Regions from separate parts of the Homo sapiens genome. Here region 1 is linked to region 2. The links come from fine-mapping of genetic effects on gene expression. A gene starts in region 2. The other region holds a variant in brackets. All regions are shown on one strand. Distances are between the middles of the regions.

Region 1 (2,920 bases), 70 kb before region 2:
TCATCAGTTTAGGGCCACATATCTTTTGTACATCTAAAATGGTGCCCGTTTCCAGTGTGTCCTTCAATCCATCCTACACGATACTGCCAGACTCACCTTTCTTGACCACTGCTCACTCTTTCTTGTTCTCAAATTGCCAATGATATCCACTGTCCATGGCATACAGCTTAACTTCCTAAAGTATAATGTTTCTCTAAGACAAGATTTTCTATAACCTGGCTCCAGCTTTGTTTCTACTCCTCTTCTAAATTCTCCTTTCTATCTTGTTCCCCCGTCTTTTGCTCATGCCATTCTTTCCTTCTATGGAAATCCTACCTGTACATCAGAATCTATTTCAAATAGCCACTCTCTTCCTTAGGCTTTCACTGATATTACAACAAAAAGAACTGCCTGCTATCGGTCATCATTAATGAATTCATATGCCAATCACTTTATCCAGTTTTAATAAATCATCACAAATTTGGGGTAAGAGCTTAGTGTGTGCAACTGAATCAAGATGTAGTAAGGGTTCTTTGGATGTGTGTGTGTGCCTAAGAAACATTTTATCAATATAAATACTCAGATTCACTTTCTTCTAAGGTTCTAACTCAACCCTAGGAAAGCATCCTAGAGCCCTGGAGAGTGAGGGTACATAAAGAACATCACAACCTTAATCCATAAGAGAAATCTAATGAACATTACAAATATACCATTTTTTACCCTAGAAGACAGAAATTCAAAGTGTGACAGCACACTGCTGTGGTTTCAGTATGTCCCCCAAAGGTCGCTGTTAGAATTAACTGGCATTGTTAACAGTATTAAGATGTGGGGCATTTAAGCAGTGATTAGGCCATGAGGGGTTCATCCTCATGAATGGATTAATTCTGTTATTACCCGAGTGGGATGTGGGTTGGTTACCATGGGAATGGGCTCCTGATAAAAAGACGAGTCTGGCCACCACTTTTCTCTCTCTCTAGGGCCCTCTCTGTCTAGCTTGCTCGCCATGTGATGCCTTCCACCATGGGGAAACCTCATGGGATGCCTGTGCCATGTTCTTAGGCTTCCCGGCTTCCAGAACCCTGAGCCAAATATTTTTATAAATTACCCTGTTAGAGCAGCAAAAAATGGACTAACACACATATGCTATCATATAAAGAGCACTCTCACACTATCAAAATTACATCTTCGTAATACTTTATGCCAGCAAGTACATTTTCTGGAATTTACATTATGTACTTGTACAGCAATGTGCAAATTTTGCACCCATGCGAAACTGATATATTTACAGGGTTACATATTACAACACAGTTTATAGAAAGAAAAGAATGTGAAAAAAACCCAAATATCCACCAATATGGGGTACACTAAATAAATTACTGAAGATATATAAAGGAGAATATTGTATAGCCATTAAAAACAAGTAAGAGGAAAAAAGGAGGCCCCTATGTTCCGCAATGGAAAAATCTCCAAGTTACACTGTTAAATGAAAAAAAGAAAGTTCCTTGTGTACATGCTACTTTTGTGCAATAAAGGGAGAATTAAAATATTATGCATTTGTATCTGCCTGAATATGCTTTTACAGACATTCTGAAAAGATTTTAAAAACCCGTAACTGAGTACACTTTTGGAGACGGGG[T/C]TGGGAATTGGGGATTGGGTTGGGGGTAAGGTAAAGGGACTTCACTGTTTCTCTTCCTAAAAAAACAAAATTTGAACCATGTGATCATTTTGCCTAATTAAAAAAACAAGATTTTTAAAGTAAAGCAACTTCCTTCAGATAAAATACTAATTCTGCACTTTAGATTGGGTAAAGAATCAAGTTTCTTCACTTAGGTCTACAAATACAGAAGGCAAAAGTGTGTTGTGTATGTATGTACAGCAGAGTTGATTTTCTCCGGGACTACGGCTCAACAATGTTAATCACCAATGCTAGGCATACAGTGCCTACTAGAAGTATTTAATGCAATGATTTAAAAATTAGTTGAATATACTGTCTATATACAAATATTGGTATTTTGTTCTACTATGGCTTTAGGCATAAATCTTAATTACACTTTGACAAAAAAAAAGACTATTCAAACACTAACAACCGTCATCTCTCATTTTAATATAGTCTCTCAAGTGATAAAAGCTGGTTTCCTGTTCATCCACCACTTGTAAGTGTGGTATGACCCTATACCTTATTTGCTAGGTATTTTCCTAAATCCTACCCTCTCTCTGTAGTAACTTTTTCTTTCCTGATGACTTGACTTGCCGGAGAATACAACCATTGCTCCTTTCCCTGCTTGTTTCACATTTATGCACAAGAAAGCAGTATTTGCATGGGGGGTTGGGGATGCATATATGTATTTATACAGATGAGTAATACTAAGCAACTCACTCACAAGGATTACGTAGTGGACAGCTTGGAGGCCAAGGAGAAAGCTAACATCCACAATACCAGAACCAATACACTGGGGCAGACCCTCCTAGCCATTATGCCCATAACCCTGTTCAATCTCACAAAGGTGGCTTTCAACTTTGTACCCCAAGCTAAAGAGTGACTGGTGGTAAGAAGTACACACACAAAAAAATGTTCCATTATAGTTAAAAGGCCTACTTACCCCTCCCAGTAATCTCTGCCCTATTTTATTTATTTATTTATTTTTAGACAGAGTCTTGCTCTTGTTGCCCAGGCTGGAGTGCAATGACACGATCTTGGCTCACTGCAACCTCCGCCTCCCGGGTTCATGCGATTCTCCTGCCTCAGCCTCCCGAGTAGCTGGGACTACAGGTGCGTGCCACAACGCCCGGCTCCTTTTTTTGTAGTATTTTAGTAGAGACGGAGTTTCATCTTGTTAGCCAGGATGGTCTAGATCTTCTGACCTTGTGATCCGCCTGCCCTGGCCTCCCAAAGTGCTGGGATTACAGGCGTGAGCCACTGTGCCCGGCCTCTGCCCTACCG
Region 2 (2,920 bases):
GGGTCCCCTTTTCTCTACATCCTCTCCAGCATTTGTTATTGCCAATTTTTTGGATAAAAACCATTTTAACCAGGGTGGAATTATATCTCATTGTAGTTTTGACTTGCATTTCAGTCAAATGGACCATTGGAACCCAGATCAGGGCTGAAACTCCATTTATTTCCTGGCCCACAAGCACCCTACTCCAATAGAGGGCCCTAAGGAATCCCGAGTTCTCTGGGTGTGAATGTCAGCTCAGGCCCTGTGTCCAGCATTTCTCAAAATGTTTGCATATTCTGCTTTTCCACTGTATAGTTGTTTAAACAAGTGACCACAGGCACATTTGGCAAAGAACCATTGGAACCATAACTGTGTTCCCTTGCCATGGGTGCTCCTGAGAACCTGACCTCCCTTTGAATTAGTGGATTCTGGGTCAGATAAACTGACTCAAGGATTAAGATCTGTTTTATTTCTTCTTCCATCATCTATCACACACTTGTGGCATTTCATCTTTACTTAATGTGGGCTGTAATTTTCTCCAAAGTTCCAGGAGTCATCCTAGCAGTGTGATGAAAACATCTCCCAGAGTCCTTGCCAGGGTGGCAAATCATCTATTACAGTAGACTGTGCCCATATAAATAAACTCATCATTTTCCAACTTCATGCTTCCCCTGCTTTGATTCATCCCCCTCATTCAGTCCCATGAAGAGTCTCTGGCTTTGGCCATTGCACGTTGGCCTGCCGCCTTTAGGCACATGGTTCCTTCCTTTGCTCAGCAGGCTCTGCATTTCCCCTCCACATGCTGTCTCACTTGACTCTAGTGATGGGTCTGGTCAAGGCAGGAGGTGGGGGTGGGTCCTGAGGAGCACTGTGTTGTCTTGCAATGCAGAGATTCCTATACCATGTTCAAGCAAGGGCAGAGCACAGCCTCTCACAGGGAGGTCAGGGCCACCTCTGTAGGCCCGGAGGGCTCTGAATGGAGTGTTGAGGTTTTGTTTTGTTTTGAGATAGAGTCTCACTCTGTCACCCAGGCAGGAGTGCAGTGGTGTGATCTTGGCTCACTGCAACCTCCACCTCCCAGGTTCAAGCGATTCTCCTCAGCCTCAGCCTCCTGAGTAGCTGGAACTACAGCCACACACTGCCACGCTTAGCTAATTTTTTGTATTTTTAGTAGAGGCCAGGTTTCACATGTTGGCCAGGCTGGTCTCGAACTCCTGACCTCAGGTGATCTGCCTGCCTGGGCCTTCCAAAGTGCTGGGATTACAGGAGTGAGCCACTGTGCCCAACCTCAAGAGTTGAGGTTTTGAGAGCATTAATTCTGTTGTCTCTCTCATCCCTAATAGGCCCCTGACATTGTCATAGCCATAACCAGACTAACCAGAGCTAAGAATTCAAATTTTTTTGAAGTGCTGCTATTCTTATAATTAATTCCTGGGCCTTATCCTTAGATTTTTCAGTCCTCCTGCTACAGGAGATGAGTCTCTTCCGATGCCTCCAGTGAGGCTTTCTCCCTTTCACACTTTCCTTTCAATGATGATTCACAGCCCTGAGCCTCACTTTGTCTTTCTCTAATGCCTCCAGTGACTCAGCCAGAGCCATTAGAGTCCATTGTTCTCAGGACTGGTAATTTCTCTAACTCCCAAAAGCCTGGGAGATTGCCATCTACCAGGGTATTCTCTCCCACCTCTTTCCCACCCCAGGTCATCACCAGTGAAAGTTCTGACACTTGCACTTCTCCGGCAAGCCAGGGCCGGGGCTTCACTGCCAGCCAGCAGGAGGATGAGCCAGCTCTGCAGTTCCACTTCAGAGTCCATCTTCTTGGATCACTCTTGGCACCAACTGTATTGAGTTGAGTTCTGGGAAATAGACTTGCAGGTAAAAATTTCCATGAGAAGTTTTTTGGGGAGTGATCTTAGTGCTTATACCTATAAAGGAGTAAACGCGGTAACACTGGGCAGAAGGAGATGTTGAGCTTTGTTGCAGTTGCAGCAGAGGAATCGGTCAATCTTGCATGGAGTCTGACCTGGGAGGGCCTCCCAGAGCTGTATCACCATGAGGCAAGGGGCCAGGCCTCTGCATCCCACCTTTGTGCACCAGTCATTGGATGCAGCTGCCCCTGGGATGGTGCTATGAACTTGGGCAGGGTGGCTGTCTTCAGCTGGGAGCCGTTTCCAGGAAGGGACCCAGTGGGGAGCCCTGACAACCACCCCCCAACCCACCAACACTCTCAGCTGTGGAGAGGATGACAGCGTCTGCCTGGGCATCACAGCAGCCACAACCGCCCCTTTTTCACTCCTTTTAATCTGTCTGCCCCCTTTTATACATTTATTCTTCCAAGGTTTCTATTCTCAGGCTTTTTCTTCTTGGGTCTGCCTTTCTTTGGGGGGATGGGGCTGCGGGGAGTGTTGCATCTACTTCCTACTACAGATGCTGTGCCCTGTCCTCGGATCTCCATGATTCCCACCCACTGGTTTATCCTTCTGTTTGTACCAGTCCTCTTTGGACTTCCCACCTGTTTGCATCACCTCCCCAACTTCCCGATTCGACCCCCAAGTCCTATATCTGTACGATACCTGTGCATGCCTTGTATGGAAGTCCCCATGGCTCGTACGTTGTGGATCCAGGCTTCTGTACTTCAGTTCCCAGCACCAATATCACAACCTGTTTGGAAGTGGACATGCGTTAAATTCGTGCATGTTCCCTACTTTTTGCCTTGGTGTCTAATTCTGCTCTCTCTTTCCACCCCGCCCCCCTACCTCAGTCCATTATCCACAGCTCTTACAAAGCTACCAGAGGAAGCTTTCTAAAATATGAATCTTTATTCATCGAAAAATATTTATGGAACGTTTGCAGTGTCCCACCTAGGTTATTTTCTAGGCATCTGTGATGAACAATACAGTCAAAGTTCCTGCTCTCACAGAACTTACATTTTAGCCGGAAG

Evidence for each region. PIP is the estimated chance that this variant, and not a neighbour inherited with it, causes the effect.
Region 1: its variant is the best candidate, but not a certain one, in a credible set for the expression of ARGLU1-DT in prefrontal cortex (BrainSeq, PIP 0.72).

The regions. Positions count from the first base shown.
Region 1 is chr13:106,546,143-106,549,062 of GRCh38, forward strand. All of the region lies in intron 3 of ARGLU1 (arginine and glutamate rich 1), which reads right to left. Among named protein-coding and RNA genes, the nearest start is that of EFNB2, 12 kb to the left of the region's middle. The variant T/C (reference allele first, on the strand shown) is at 1,616.
Region 2 is chr13:106,616,180-106,619,099 of GRCh38, forward strand. ARGLU1-DT (ARGLU1 divergent transcript) reads left to right here and starts at 1,631. Exons shown (of 4, transcript NR_051977.1): 1 at 1,631-1,854.